Linked DNA regions of Homo sapiens. The protein of the gene in region 2 purifies or fractionates together with the protein of the main gene of each other region. This does not show direct contact. Each region holds a gene or a part of one and is shown on either strand. Other genes may lie near its edges.

What was found. Proteins that work in one complex are often made in the same cells at the same time.
Region 1: the proteins of UBALD2 (region 2) and ZNF430 purify together in Homo sapiens (affinity purification with mass spectrometry; one large-scale study listed by BioGRID and IntAct). This does not show direct contact.
Region 3: the proteins of UBALD2 (region 2) and ZNF217 purify together in Homo sapiens (affinity purification with mass spectrometry; one large-scale study listed by BioGRID and IntAct). This does not show direct contact.

What each region holds. Positions count from the first base shown.
Region 1 is NC_000019.10:21,019,115-21,024,307, reverse strand, and holds the start of ZNF430 (zinc finger protein 430), read right to left. Parts: upstream 3,652-5,193; 5' UTR 3,508-3,651; coding exon 3,505-3,507; intron 1,520-3,504; coding exon 1,427-1,519; intron 1-1,426. UniProt on the Homo sapiens protein: May be involved in transcriptional regulation.
Region 2 is NC_000017.11:76,263,374-76,268,778, reverse strand, and holds the start of UBALD2 (UBA-like domain-containing protein 2), read right to left. Parts: upstream 3,432-5,405; 5' UTR 3,274-3,431; coding exon 3,154-3,273; intron 2,873-3,153; coding exon 2,810-2,872; intron 1-2,809.
Region 3 is NC_000020.11:53,572,489-53,577,250, forward strand, and holds part of ZNF217 (zinc finger protein 217), read right to left. Parts: coding exon 3,239-4,762; intron 2,821-3,238; exon of another isoform or gene 1,870-2,820; intron 369-1,869; exon of another isoform or gene 160-368; intron 1-159.

The sequences.
Region 1 (5,193 bases), on a different chromosome or scaffold from region 2:
CAACTTTATCATCAGTAAGACCCTCTCAATCTCCTACCATCTTAACCTTAACTGCATCTGCCTGTGGGTCCCCACCTTTCCAGGACTCTGTAGCTTCTCTCAGCAGAAAAGCTTCTTCCACAGCTAGAGTGAGCAGGCTAGGACATCTGCAGGGGAGGCTCCCCAGAAAAAAAACTAACTGGGCCTGTAATAAACTCCTTTTGCAGGCTCAATATTAGCCTTAGCTCTGAGTCACTGGGCTCAAGCTTTAATTTCTATGTTAGAGTTACTCACTTGGTTTTTGAAACTATGTGTTTGAAAAATCTAGCAAAATTAGTCACAGTGTTCATACAAGGGAAGGAAATTTTAAGGTGTTTGCAATTTATACCTCAATAAAAAAAGCAAAATATCTATTTCTTTCACATAATGTATGCATTATTTTATGAATTCCATTAAGAATCATTTAGTAAACAGTTAGTCATATGGGAAAACTTCTAGGTGGTACCAAGTTTCATCTCATAAAATTTAGCATGAAACTCAGAAATCAAGATAACAGGATTTGAACAGAGATGTTTACTGTCACAAATTTACCCTGCAGAGAGAGAAACTCATGTTTTCATGAATGTATGTAACTCACCAATTATCTACCACATTTTCTTGTAGAAATGTATTTATTTTCTACAAAAAAATGGAACAGAGATTTTCCCTACTCATTTCCTTGGTAGCATTCTAAAAGCTGAGCCTTAGAATTCTGTTTGAAATCACCCAGCCATAAAAAACACACCTGAGAAAATTCCTAAACTCACCCTGGGGGTAAAAAGGGAATAGAGAATTTTTAATGAATGGAATATATTATTAGATACTATTTTTTTTCTTAAACCCACCACTTTTATGCCTTTGGTAAATATTTTCCTACCTTTCAAGCCCTACTAATAGAATTTACAGCTAAAAAACTGAGGTTAAAATAAATGAACAAATCTTTTCAAGGTGACAAACCCAGGGAGTGGCAGTGCTGATGAAAAAACAGATGTGTCTGACTCATGTTTCAAGTCAGGCCATTCAATCACTTCAAACAGTCTTCCACCCACTCCTGCTCACTTATGTGCTCAAGAACCACCCACTCAGGAGATACCACACTATGCCCCAGTGACTGTCCCACGGGCATTTAACTTTGCAAGTTCTTACGCCATCTCACTGGGGTCAGTGTTTTTCTTTTTCTTTTTGTCTTTTGGGATACTATTTTTTCTGTCACAAATGTTCCACTTTTTTCCACTATTTTACTTTCACTATAGTTATTTCACTATTTTTCTGCCCCCTTAGACAATCCAGAGGCAAAAATTATTTGTTTTCCCCTCAATGCCACAGTCTGATTGGTTGACCAGCAATGTGTCTCCAAGAAATGAAAGCTGGGTTGGGTGAAGACAATTTTAACATCTCAAGGGGTTACCTTTTCATAAAAAGAGTACACCAGAAGATTCCTGTCAGCCCCAGGGCATCCACTTGCTTCCTTGAGAGGATACACTCCAGACTTCAGGTTCTCCTATGGGAGAAAATAACCCAGAAGCTGATATCCACTAGACACTCTAACTGACATAACCATGGCGGATATCTTGGTTTATCCCCAGACAATACTGAAACCCAGGACCAGAAAAAAACTGAAGGGTGACTGAGGACACAACACCCCATAAAGTTTCCAAAGGAAAACCCTGACCCAAAAACATCCTGAGACAAGATCTCTGTGCCCAGAGAAGATACAAGGAGAAGAAGCACAGAGAGTTTTTACAACACAGTGTCAGGGGATTATTCTTTGCTTTCTTCACATGGGAAATATTTACAAACAGATAACAAATCTTATTAAAAGCACCATTTAATACTTTGTCAGAAAATAACTAATTAAAATACGGTGTAAAAAATGTACACTAAAGGACAAATAGGTGATAATGTGAATTAGGTAGGAAAAGTTGGCATTTGGGAACGCCAGAAAGAACTGGAAATTTAGTATCTTACTGCAAGCCAGAGTGAGGCTGGAGAAATGGGGGACGGGGGTTAGACTTAAGACCCTGCTTGGGACACAGGTGAAAAATGCAGCAGAAAATCAGTTCCCCGTGGAGTGTGAAAATAATTGAGTGGCAGGCAATTAGACTGAGGTGTCTCTAGACCCTGGGTTCCTACTTTTAAAAAGATCTAACGTGGCTGGGCGTGATAGCTCACGCCTGTAATCCCAGCATTTTGGGAGGCCAAGGCAGGCGGATCACCTGAGGTCAAGAGTTCGAGGCCAGCCAGGCCAACATGGTGAAACCCCGTCTCTACTAAAAGTACAAAAATTAGCTGGGCAGGGTGGCAGGCGCTTGTAATTCCAGCTACTCAAAAGGCTGAGGCAGGAGAAGCTTGAACACAGGCAGCGGCAGAAGTTGTAGTGAGCCGAGATTGTGCCACTGCACTCCAGCCTGGGCGACAAGAGCGAGACTCCATCTCAAAAAAAAAAAAAAAAAAAAAAAAAAAAAATCTAACTCAGGCGCATCGTTTTGAAAATTACTACATTGAAAGACACAAAATTCAGGCTTAATCAACTGTATACTGCCAATTAAGGTCTGATTACACAACCAGAAAATTTTCACCTTTATTGTACAAACTAAGAAACTACATAACGGTACCTAACCAATTACTGAATTTGGCTTTCTTCATCATGCACCTTATAAAAGTCTTTCCTTCAAGCCCCGCCATGAACAACAAATTACAAACCACAGCTGGGTGCTCAACAGTTTTTTAATCACTCTTTGATTAATTTCTTTAATATTTTTGTGGTGACTTCTGTACATTTTTTTTTTCCGAGACGGAGTCTTGCTCTGTTACACAGGCTGTAGTGCAGTGGCGCTATCTCGGCTCACTGCAATCTCCACCTCCCAGGTTCAAGTGATTCTCCTGCCTCAGTCTCCCAAGTAGCTGGGACTACAGGCGTGTACCACCATGCCCGGCAAATTTTTGTATTTTTAGTAAAGACGGGGTTTCACTATGCTGGCCAGGCTGGTCTTGAACTCTCCTGACTTAGTGATGCGCCCGCCTCGGCCTCCCAAAGTACTGGGATTACAGACGTGAGCCACCCCTCCCGGTCTGTACATTTTTAATAGGAGAAAAGAGGAACTAGGAACCCAGGACCAAAGTTCTTCCCATTCATGAACTCGCACCCCAAGTCAGGATTCTCCCGTGACGATTCTCCCGTGACGATCCTCCCGTGGTCCCTGCACAGTCTGGGAGAGACGCGGCGCTGCGGATGCAGAGCTGCCCAGAGAGGGCTCCAGGCCAGGGCACAGTCACTGCGCAAGGAAGAGACGGGACGTGCTGGGGCCCGCCTGTCAGCGCAGCCGCCATCTTAAGGCTGATGGGGACTGAGGCCCAGCTGGGCAAGAACTCGGGGCGCAGATTGTGCAGCTGACTGCCGGGAGGCCTGAGTCCCGCCACAGCCACTTCCCACCCATTACAACCAGCCCCTCCCCTCTCTGGGGATGTCGGACCCGGCACTCTCACCATTTCTAGGCTTCCAGGGGTTCCTGGCGTCTTAGCTGTAGATCTCCCAATACCTGCGGGTCACAGGGCCACAGAGCCTGGACCTCTAGGAGCAGAGGACACAGAGCGCTGAAGACGAGACCTGGAGCTCAGGCCACAGCGAGGGACAAAGGCCCCGCCAAACCCGGAAGCCGCCCTGTCCGCTTCACCTGCGTGCCTGATTGGACGGTTCCCTGCCTAGCGTCTCTGATTGGATAACATTTAAATCCCCGCCCCCTCAGGCCATGATTGACGGAAGATGTGATGAGATGCGGGGCTGAAAGAAGAGTGACAGCTTGGGCTGCATCCTTCTCTGACAGGGCTTCCTCCCTGAGCTGAGCCAGGCCCACCCCAGAGGTTATTTGCATTTAACCTTGTGTGTAAGGTCATATGCATTTATAAATAATATATGGGGCCGGTCACGGTGGCTCACGCCCGTAATCCCAACATTTTGGAAGGCTGAAGCGGGCAGATGACCTGAGGTCGGGAGTTAGAGACCAGCCTGACCAACATGGAGAAACCCAGTCTTTATAAAAAATATAAAATTAGCGGGTTGTGGTGGCCCATGTGTGTTATCCCAGGTACTCGGGAGGCTGAGGCAGGAGAACCGCTTGAACCTGGGAGGCGGAGGTTGCGGTGAGCCGAGATTGTGCCATTGCACTCCAGCCTGGGCAACAAGAGCACAACTCTGTCTAAAATATATATATATATATATATATATATATTTATTTATATATATTTATTTATATATATTTTTATATATTTATTTATATATATTTTATATATTTATATATGTATTTATTTATATATTTATATATTTATATATTTATTTATATATATTTATATATATTTATTTATATATATTTATATATATTTATTTATATATATTTGTATATATTTATTTATATATATATTTATATATATTTATATATTTATTTATGTATTTATATACATTTATATATATTTATATATATTTATATTTATATAATTATATATATTTATATATTTATATATATTTATATATATATTTATATATTTATATATATTTATATTTATATACTTATATATATTTATATATTTATATATATTTATATATATTTATATATTTATATATATTTATATATTTATATATATTTATATATAAATATTTATATATTTATATATATATATTTATATATTTATATATTTATATATATATATTTATATATTTATATATATTTATATTTATATATTTATATATTTATATTTATATATTTATATGTATATATTTATATATATTTATATTTATATTTATATATTTATATTTATATATATTTTTTATATTTATATTTTTATATATTTTTATATATTTATATATTATACATATTTATATTTATATATATTTATGTTTTTATATATATTTATATTTTTATTTTTATATATTTTTATATATATTTATATTTATATATATATAGTGGCTATTCAAAAATGAAAAGAATGTAACAATAATTATTTTAAAATTTCAGATTTTATGACCTTCCCGGCTAAAGGAGGCAGCCTCAGATTTTAAAAAGATGGTAATCTTCTGAAATAAAATGTGAGCCACATGTGAATCTTAAATTTTCTAGTAGACAAACTTGAAAAAGAAACAAGGAACAGGTTGAATTGATTGTAACAATTTAACCCAATATG
Region 2 (5,405 bases):
CTAGGTGGCAGAGCAAAACTCCGTCTCAAAAAAAAAAAAAAAAAAAACAGAGGGAGCTTTCACAGCTAGAAACCGGAGGTTGTGTAGGGGGTGTGTAACATACATGGAATGGGGACACTAGCACACCCTGTCCATTGAGCCCCACACCATGTCAGCACCCAGGGCACCAAGGGAGCTCTGACCCTTGCCTTTCTAGGGGTCCTCAGGGGGAGGCCAAAGGACCCAATGCAGAGGCCTGGCCCCACCCAGACCTTTCCCCTCCTCCCTCCACTACTCCCTGCCCCCCCCCCACCCTCTGGGGATGACTTCTCGGCAGCAGGAAACAATGAATGAAGGGTGGGGGTGGAGGCCAATTGCATCACAGCATCGTGACCGACTTCCCCAGTTCCCCGCCAGCCAGCGAGGCCTGTCTCCTCAAACAGCCGCCAGAGAACAGCAGGGATGATGGCTGGCAGGCCTGTGGTGGCCTGCCTGTGTAAGCTTGGGCAAGTTCCTGAACCTCTCTGGAGCTTCTCTCTGCTTTTGTAAAATGAGGGTTTTGAACCAGATATGCCCTCTCGGCCAGTTCTCAAGAAAACCCATTGTCCCCTGTACCTTTGTCCTCCCACTTCAAGTCTGTAGTGCCTTTCTCCACTTCCAACTGGGAAGCCCTCCTTATCAACTGGGAAGCTTCCAACTATGGGAATCTACAGTAATGTACGGGACAACCATTTATCAGTTACTCATGACTTCTGGTTTTGCCATTTTGCTGTTACTGGTCTCTAGTGTTTCGTTTTTTGATCTTTTTCCTTTGACTTACTTTGTCCAAAATAAATTGCCAGGCCGGGTGCAGTGGCTCACGCCTGTAATCCCTGAACTTTGGGAGGCCGAGGCAGGCGGACCACCTGAGGTTGGGAGTTCGAGACCAGCCTGATCAACATGGAGAAACCCCGTCTCTACTAAAAATACAAAATTAGCCAGGTGTGGGATTACAGGTGGCACGTGCCTGTAATCCCATGAGGCAGGAGAATCGTTTGAACCCAGGAGGTGAAGGTTGCGGTGAGCCGAGATCACACCATTGCACTCCGCCTAGGCAATAAGAGTGAAACTCTGTCTCAAAAAAAAAAAAAAAGAAAAGAAATTGCCAGCTGGGTGCAGTGGCTCACACCTATAATCCCAGCACTTCGGGAGGCTGAGGCGGAAGGATAGCTTGAGGCCAGGAGTTCAAGACCAGCTTGGGCCACATAGAGACTCCCCCTGCCCTGGCCTTTCTCAAAAATAAAATTAGAAAAAAAAAAAAAAAAAAAAAGAAACCATGAACTTTTTGAGAGCAGGGATGGTGTCCTCCACTGTGCTGCTAAGGCACTCAGACTTGGGCACTGATGGACACACTGGTTATGTGTGTTACAAAACCTGCTGCCTTCCTTGAGGGAAGCTTCAAAAGAGACTTAGCATCTCCTTGGGATTTGCAGAGGAGGGGCAATAGGAACTAAACAGGATGCCAGACCAGCTCTTCCTGGGGAGCCTCCCTGTTCTCAGCCCCTCAGAATGGCTGTAGTATCTGGAAGTTCTGAGTTTTTTGGGATGGCCACAGCTGGTGGAAGGAAATCTCAAGGATCCGGTGACAGGAGATGGCAGGAAGCTTCGAGACTCAAGCATAGGCGGGTGCTGGCCATTTCTCCTGGTCAAGTGCAGGGGACGGTGTCCCCTGGAGATGAAACCCTCTTGGGTTTCTAAGAGCCCTGTGGCCAGCACCATGCTCCCATCATACTCAAATGCCATTTTGGCTTGATTTATATACAGCATCAGCCATTCTGAGAAAAACTAGCTAACAAGGTCAAGACAGACCCCTCTACTTGTCCTCTGTGACTAGATGAAAACAGAGAGCCAAAGGCAAGGGCACCAAGTGTTAAAAATCCCAAAAATGCACCTAGAGTCCACAACAGCTCTCCTGGGGAACAATGTTTTAAGATCCCTATCGCTGAGCCCTGCCCCTCCTCCCCCAGCAGGGCTAATAGGTAACTAGGGGGGTAGGGTACAGGAGAGATGTCCTGGGCCTCAAGAAAGCAGAGTACCCCATGGCCAGGAGGGCAAAAGCTTGGGCCTGGGCTAGAATGAAAAAGAAAGCAAATCCAGACCCCGGACCACTTCTCTGTGTGCTGGGCTGGTGGAGCTCAACACAGAGATTAAAGACACATTCCTGGCCTTATCTTGGGTCAAAATCTGTGTGTCCTCCTGGCTTGGGGGATGTATGTCCTTCCAACTTCCCAGTCCCCTTGGGCTTCGGAAGGTTGAACAGATCTTTGTGGGTAGAGCCCGGCTTCCTGAGCCAGGGTGGATTCATGCCTTTCCTGTTCCCTGTAGCGCTGGGTGTGTGTGTGTGTGGAGGGGGAGGGGGGAAACCACTCAACAGCACGAGGGGGTCCCCATAAACACAAGCACCCCCATCGCCCTCCCTGGGCCCTTCGCGCGGGCTTCCCAGTGCCCCAGACGTCCGGGCATCACCCTCTCCCCCTCCCCATCCCCTGGCTCTGGGGTCCCCCAGCTCCTGAGCCCCTCGCCAGGCCCCCGGCCCTCTCCCCCTCCCCCCAACTTTGGCGCCGCTTCCCCCCAGGGACCAGTGCCGGGCACCAGTCCCGAGGCCAAGCAGCAGCAGCCCGGGAGGCGGGCCTCAAAGTTGGAGGCGCCAGCGCCGGCCCGGGAGCCGCTCTTTCCTGGAAGACATTTTGGCTCTTTGTTTACATTCGCGGCGCGGCGCTCCCCGGCAACATGGCTGTCACCGCCGCGCTGACAGCGGCCCCGGCCCGCGCCCCTGCCCGCCGCCGCTTACCATCTGGTGGTGGTGGTGGCTGTTGGGAATGTTGGTTTCTTGGAAGAACGTGCTCAGCGCGGTCTGCGGACAAACAGGGCAGTGACACGGCGGGCCAGGCGGAGTCAGGAAACGCAGCGGCTGGGCCCCCCACCGGCTCTCCCCGCCTCCGCGCCCGGCCCGCGGCCCCCGACCCTCGGCTGCCCCACGTGCAGAGGGGAGCCGGTCCCGGCCCCGGTCCCGCGTAAGACCCGCTCGCGGGCGCCGATCGCCTTCCGGGCCGACAACAGGAGCGCTCCCCGCCCCCGCCGCCGCCCGGCGTCCCCGACCCCCGCGGCCCGGCCCCGCGGCGGCCAGGCTCGCACCTCGAACTGCCAGTGGGCCGCCTGCAGCAACTGCTTCGCCTGGTCGGCCGCGCAGCCCGCGGCCAGCACGAACTGGTTGATCATGACCTGGTGCCGCAGCTCGTCCATGTTCACCGACATGGCGCGGCGCGGCGCGGGGCCCGGCGTCTCCGGCCGGACGCAGACGCGGGGCTGCGCGGGCGCGGGAGGCCGGCCGCCCGGGGCTCCGGGGCTCGCGCTCACCGCTGCTGCCGCCGCTCCGCCGCCCGCTCCGCCGCCGCCCGCCCGGCGAATGTTGTGGTTCGACTCCCGCGGCCCGGCCGACACCACAAACAACAGCGCGGGGCGGGGCTGGGCCGGCCCAACGTTCGGGGACTGCCGCTGATTGGCCGGGGCGCCGCTCCGCCAGCGCCCGGCTCCCGTAAGGACGTTCGATTCGAATCCTGCGGCCTGTGGGGCCCTCACTGTTTCTCTTTTCGCCCGGCCGCGCCCATTGGCGGAGCTCGGCGCCGTGGGGCTCCCCAGCATTGGCCGGCCGCTGTGTTTTGGCTCATCCGGCCTCGTGGTTGGTCACGGCCGGGCGTTCGGGGCGGGGCCGCGCACTCTGATTGGCCTCCGGTGGTCCTGTTTGAACTCAACTTGAAAACCCGGAGTGCCTGCTGATTGGCCGAGGGCCCTCTGTTTGCTGTTGTAGGCTTGGGGGTGGTGCGGCCAAGTTCATTCATTACTTCATTGAAACAGAACATGCTCAGCTGGAAAAGCAAGACAGAGTGGCTTTGACTCATTTCCTCTGAAAGATGTGGTCATCTCGAGAAACAGAATGATCAAAATAGAAAACAGAGCCTTTGCAGCTGCTCAAGTCTCAAAAGCATGTAATTTTTAAAAATAACTTTCAAGCAGTCCAATTTAAAAAAATCTTTTATTGAAATATAACGTACATTAGGAAAGTGCGATGTCGCAGGTACAGCTTCCAGACTTTTCACCAAGTGAACACCCAGATCAATTAACAGAACGTTACTTGCACCCTAGGAACCCGCGTCCTGCCCTCTTCTAATCACTACCCACCGCAAGGATCGAGCAGTATTTTCTCAGTTTTTAGACCAAAGACTTTGCTCTCTGAAGATGGAAGCCAAGATTTATGTACAATAAATACGATATGCAAGGAAATATGCAAGGAAAAAAGTGAGACTTTCTCAGTGGCCAAAATGCCAAGTCAAGAATTTTTTCTTGTTAAATCGGTTGACCTAACTGAAGCTTTAATTTTCTTTTTTTTTTTTTCTCTTGCTTGTCACGAAAGCTAAGATGAAGCTTTAATTTCTACCATCTTTTAAAAAAACAACGGGTGGCAGTAGGGGTGGAGTCTGGGGTTGGGATGGCTTACACCTATAATCCCAGCACTTTGGGAGGCCGAGACAGGAGGATAACTTGAGGCCGGGAGTTCAACACCAGCTTGGGCAACATAGCACAGACTCCATCTCTACCAAATAAAAACAAACAATAACAAACAGTGAGTGTTTCTACAGAGATACTGTTTCTCAGTGGTAGCCCTTTAAAGTCCAAAATTTGGTGGTGGTGGTTGTTAGATAGGGCTAGAGTGACATGATCATGGCTCACTGTAACTTCGAGCGATCCTCTTGCCTCAGCCTCTCGAGTAGCTGGGACTACAGGCACACACCACCATGCCTGACTAATTTTTGAATTTTTGGTAGAGATGAGATCTCACTATTGTTGCCCAGGCTGGTCTTGAACTCCTGGACTAAAGTGATCCTCCTGCCTCAGCCTCCCAAAGCACAGGGATTACAGGTGTGAGCCACCATGCCTGGCCCCAAATTTGTTTGTATGTGCTGAGCTTCCATCTTCTGGATTAGAGTTTGATCTTCAGGGCTGTGTTTGAGAATTGTGGGGGTAGGAAAAGAACTAGGAGTTTAAGCAGATTGGGGAAGGGGCAGAAGAGATTGGGAAGATAAATATTGTTAGGGATTCACTGTTAAGAGTTTCTGTTTCAGGAGAACTTTGTGAGTTTTTTATCTGAACTACTAATTACAGAGTGTATTTTAACCAGCTAAAGGTCTGCAGAACAGAAGGAGGCTTATAATAAGAAAGCACGTCGTGGTTCTATCTTGACTTTGCCTAAATTGGATTTAACTCCCTATCTAAGAAAACTTGACAGTATGTATTTTTAAAGTTTACAAACAAGAAGAAGATTACAATTAATGTTAATGTTTCTGTACTGATGAAAAACAAATTCAGGTACTATCATGAGCTCATTCCAT
Region 3 (4,762 bases), on a different chromosome or scaffold from region 2:
GTTTTGATTCATGTCCATTTTAAGCACCATGGGGGGGGAAATGAAGATTTTTAACCAAAAGGCAGTAAAAATTACTATTTCATCACAATTTTTATAAAATCTACTGGAGTGTCTGAAAGCAATTGTTTTTTAATTTGCTATCTCTACTGAACCAATCAGCATCAAGCAATTCTTGACAGAGTGTTGTCACCACACAGAATCCTCAGTTTGAAACTAACACAAACTGAAATGTGCAAAACTGAATCTGTTTCTTTGGGGAGCACAAACCAGTAGAGCTTCTATGTGATAAAGGAAGATGCTGCAGTTTGACCGAGTTTGCCAAGGAGAAGATGTCCCTGGGACACTGAGCTACTTTTTTACACATACAGGTATGTGCCAGACACCTGTACGAAGTGACACCACCAGGACACATTTCTATGGGGAAAACCCCAGTCATCTATGAGGTTAACAATCTACCTATGGGGGAAATAAGGTTGGTTTTAAATTAATACAGTTGTCCCTCAGTATCCAGAGGGCACTGGCTCCAGGACCACCCGCCCCCACCACCCCAGCCAACAGATACCAAAATCCATGGATGCTCAGGTCCCTAATATAAAACAGTGTCGTATCTGCAGTATTCATAGTATCTGTAGTACTATTTTTTTTTTTTTTTGAGATGGAGTCTCGCTCTGTCGCCCAGGCTGGAGTGCAATGGCACAATCTCAGCTCACCGCAACCTCCACCTCCCAAGGTTCAAGTGATTCTCTTGCCTCAGCCTCTGGAGTAGCTGGGATTACAGGCATGCGCTACCACACCCAGCTAATTTTGTATTTTTAGCAGAGACGAGGTTTCTCCATTGTTGGTCAGGCTGTTTCCCAAAGTCCTGGGATTACAGGCGTGAGCCACCGCAACTGGCCTTGTAGTACTATTAATTTGCAGTATTGTAGCGTAACCTATTCACATCCTCCCATATACTTTACTTACTTATTATTTATTTATTTATTTGAGACAGAGTCTCACTCTTTAGCCCAGGCTGGAGTGCAACAGTGCAATCTAGACTTACTCACTGCAATCTGCGCATCCCCGGTTCAAGCGATTCTCATGCCTAAGCCTCCCAAACAGTTCGGATTACAGGTGCAAACCAACACACCCAGCCAATTTTTGTATTTTTAGTAGAGACGGGGTTTCACCATGTTGACCAGTCTGGTCTCCAACTCCTGGCCTCAATCGAGCTGCCCGCTTCAGCCTCCCAAAGTACTGGGATTACAGATGTGAGCCACCACATCCAGCACCTCCCATATACTTTAAATCATCTCTACACTGCTGGGCATGGTGGCTCATGCTTGTAATCCCAGCGCTTTGTGAGGCCAAGACAGGAGGATCACCTAAGGTCAGGAGTTCGAGACCAGCCTGACCAACATGGCGAAATGCCGTCTCTACTAAAAATACAAAAATTAGGCTGGCGTGGCGGTGGGTGCCTGCATCCAAACTACTCGGGAGGCTGAGGTAGGAGAACTGCTTGGACCTGGGAGGCAGAGATTGCAGTGAGCTGAGATCACACCATTGCACTCCAGCCTGGGCAACAGAGCAAGACTCCATCTCAAAAAAAAAAAAAATCATCTCTTCGTTATTTATAATACCTAATATGAAGTAAATGCTATGTAAATAGTTGTTATACTGTATTATCTAGGGAATTACGACAAGGAAAAGAAAACTGCAGATGTTCAGTACAGATGCGACCATCCATTTTTCCCCCAAATATTTTAGTCCCGCAGTTGGTTGAATCCACTGAGGCAGAACCCAAGGATATGGAGGGCTGACAACATTTAACAGCAAAACGGTTCACAAGACTCTTTAATCGGAAGTTCTTTTGCTTTCTGCTCTTGCCAGGTCAAGGGTCCACGTGTGGTCCTTACTGGGCGCCCCCTATTCTGCCCCGTGTGGGAAGCATGTGACTTGATGCTGTACATGTAAAACATGGTTTCTGCTCTTAAGAAGTTTACAGGCCAGCAGGGAATGGTAAAATGCGTGAGGAAGAACCCCTAGGCTGGGCGCGGTGGCTCACACCTGTAATCCCAGTACTTTGGGAGGCCGAGGCCAGTGCATCACCTGAGGTCAGGAGTTCAAGACCAGCCTGGCCAACATGCTGAAACCCTGTCTCTACTAAAAATACAAGAATTAGCCGGGCGTGGTGGCACGTGCCTATTACCCCAGCTACTCAGGAGGCTGAGGCTGGAGAATTGCTTGAACCCAGGAGAAGGAGGTTTCAGTGAGCCGAGATCGTGCCACTGCACTCAGGCTGGGCAACAAGAGCAAAACTCCGTCTCAAAAAAAAAAAAAAAAAGAAAGAAAGAAAAAAAAAACCCCCGCAACTCCAGGTGGATTGGCACTGACTACTGAGCACACCATACATGTGCAAAGGAAGAAAAAGGGCTGTGATGAAGTGAGGCAAGCTGGGGCCTCAACTGGCTGCATCTGGAATTTCAACAGCAAGACAAGAATGGACTAGACAGACCAGTGTTCTCACCCACTGTTTCCATGATCACTCTCACAACAGAAAAATAAAATTGACAAGAAAAATTACTCAAGAATAAGGCTGGGTATGGTGGCTCGCGCCTGTAATGCTGGCATTCTGGGAGGCCGAGGCAGGAGGATCACTTGAGGCCAGGGGTTTCAGACCAGCCCGGGCAACAAAGCAAATCCCTGTCTCTACAAAAAAATAAATTTAAGTTAGCCAAGCGTGGTGGAGTGCATCTGTAGTCTAAGATACTTGGGAGGTCAACGCAGGAGGATCACCTCAGGCCAGGAGTTCAAGACCAGCCTGGGCAACTCCATCTCTACAAAAAAAATTTAAAAATCAGCTGTGCATGGTAGCAGCACATATAGTCTCAGCTACCTGGGAAGCTGAGGCAGAAGGATCTCTTGAACTCAGGAATTCAAGACTACAGTAAGCTATGATTACACCGCTGCACTCCAATCTAGATGACGGAGCAAGACCCTTTCTCTAAAAATAAAGTAAGACTAAACAAATCAAAAGAATAAAATACACAGGGTTAAGAGTTAAACCCACAGAGTTAAGTAAGCCTTGGAGGACCACAAACCACTGCCGTATCTAAGAATGCTTCTCTCTGTGACCCCCAAGAACTTCTGGCTGCCTACCCCCCACCCTTGGGAGTGGTACCATCTCCACTGAGAATGCCTGGATTAGCTATTAATCACTGTAGGCAGCCATTTAAACACGACGCCCCTCATGCAATACCTTCTAACGTCGAGCTGGATGCTGGACTACCAGCAGGCACACAAGTGTAAAGTGGCCCGGAGCCACCATAGGGCTTCTGAACAGTCAGCACATTTGGAGAATCGACCTCGCTGGAGCTCAGGAACCTTGGTTTGGGAGGCAGCGCCTGCGACGGATACACACAGTCCTGCGGTAACAGTGATGTGATGCCTCTGACCATATGGTACTTGGGAAGGTCATAGCCTCTTCTGTAATTGGCCCCGGGCTGGTCAACGTCAAGGGCAACCACGCTGGACTTCAGTCTTTTTGGAAGGGGCTCACCAAATTCTGCTGCAGTATTGCTGGCACTCCGATTACAGAAATAGTCTCTTCCCGGAGGTGCCCACGGGCTGTCGTTCTTGGCGGGGTAGTCGATGGAACCATTGATGTTACTGCTGCCGAGGGTGGGCTGAGAAGGAGCTACTGGAAGAGGTTTCAATTTTGTCTCGGGTCTTTTTGTCTTATCCGGTGCAGGGGAAACACTGGTTTTAGGAAACATCTCAGATTGCTGTTGCCTGGTGGCGGCCCCTTGGACCCCCACATTCTGCTGTGGTCTGTGGGACTTCAGGTTACTTGGGGCTAAAGTGCTAGAGTCTATCCCTGAAGTCAGAGGGGCCTTGCCTGGCCCAGGAGGGCTCTGCTTCCCCTTCGCAGATGGCAGGGATTTGGACTGCGCCGGGAAAGCAGACTTGGGCTTGGGTTTACAGAAACTAGAGAGGGGAGGCACATCTTTTCCCAGCAACGCTGGCGGGCATCCGGTACGTCGACTTCTAAGCAAGGACTTGTTTCGACAGTTTTTATGAACGTCAGGATTGTATTTATGCTCCAGTCTCTGGTGCATCATTAAAACTTCTGGATAAAATGTCTTGAAGGTACAAAATGGACAGGTGATACTTGGAATCAAACTTTTACTCAAAGAAATTGCCGGGCAATTGTGAAGAGCCCCCACGGATAAATTTAAAGGTTTTTCGTGACAATCCACACTTGGCCTGTATCTGCAGTCAGCTGCGGTCTCCGTTTGCTTCTCTTTGGGGCTAACTTCAAGGTTATGGGTGGTACTGCCATCCGGAGGAGGAGTAACATCCGCCTTGGTTCTACAGATGAGGTTATTTGCCTGAGTTTCAACTGCTGATCTCTTTTTTAACAGGTCCAGGTAAGCAGGGGTAGGGTTTTTATTCACTTTATCAGCACTGTCATCAGCTGCATTTTTATGGAAATCCTGAGTATCTTTGTGTGCTGGTGAGAGGACAGCGCTGCCCAGAACATTCTGAAAAACAGAAGGCATCTCCTTAAGCTGCTTTGCAGGTGGACTGCCTGTAACATCTTTGGCACCATCAAAAAATCTTTTCAAATTTTTGGTTTGCGCACTGTCAGCGGTTAATAGTGCATCTTCAGTGTCCTGATTTTTACCATCGTTCTTGACTTCAGCAGCAACATCGGTTTGTTTTTCCTTGTGATGTCTCTCCAAGTGATACCTCAGAGATGTCTTCTGGGCTGCAGCATATT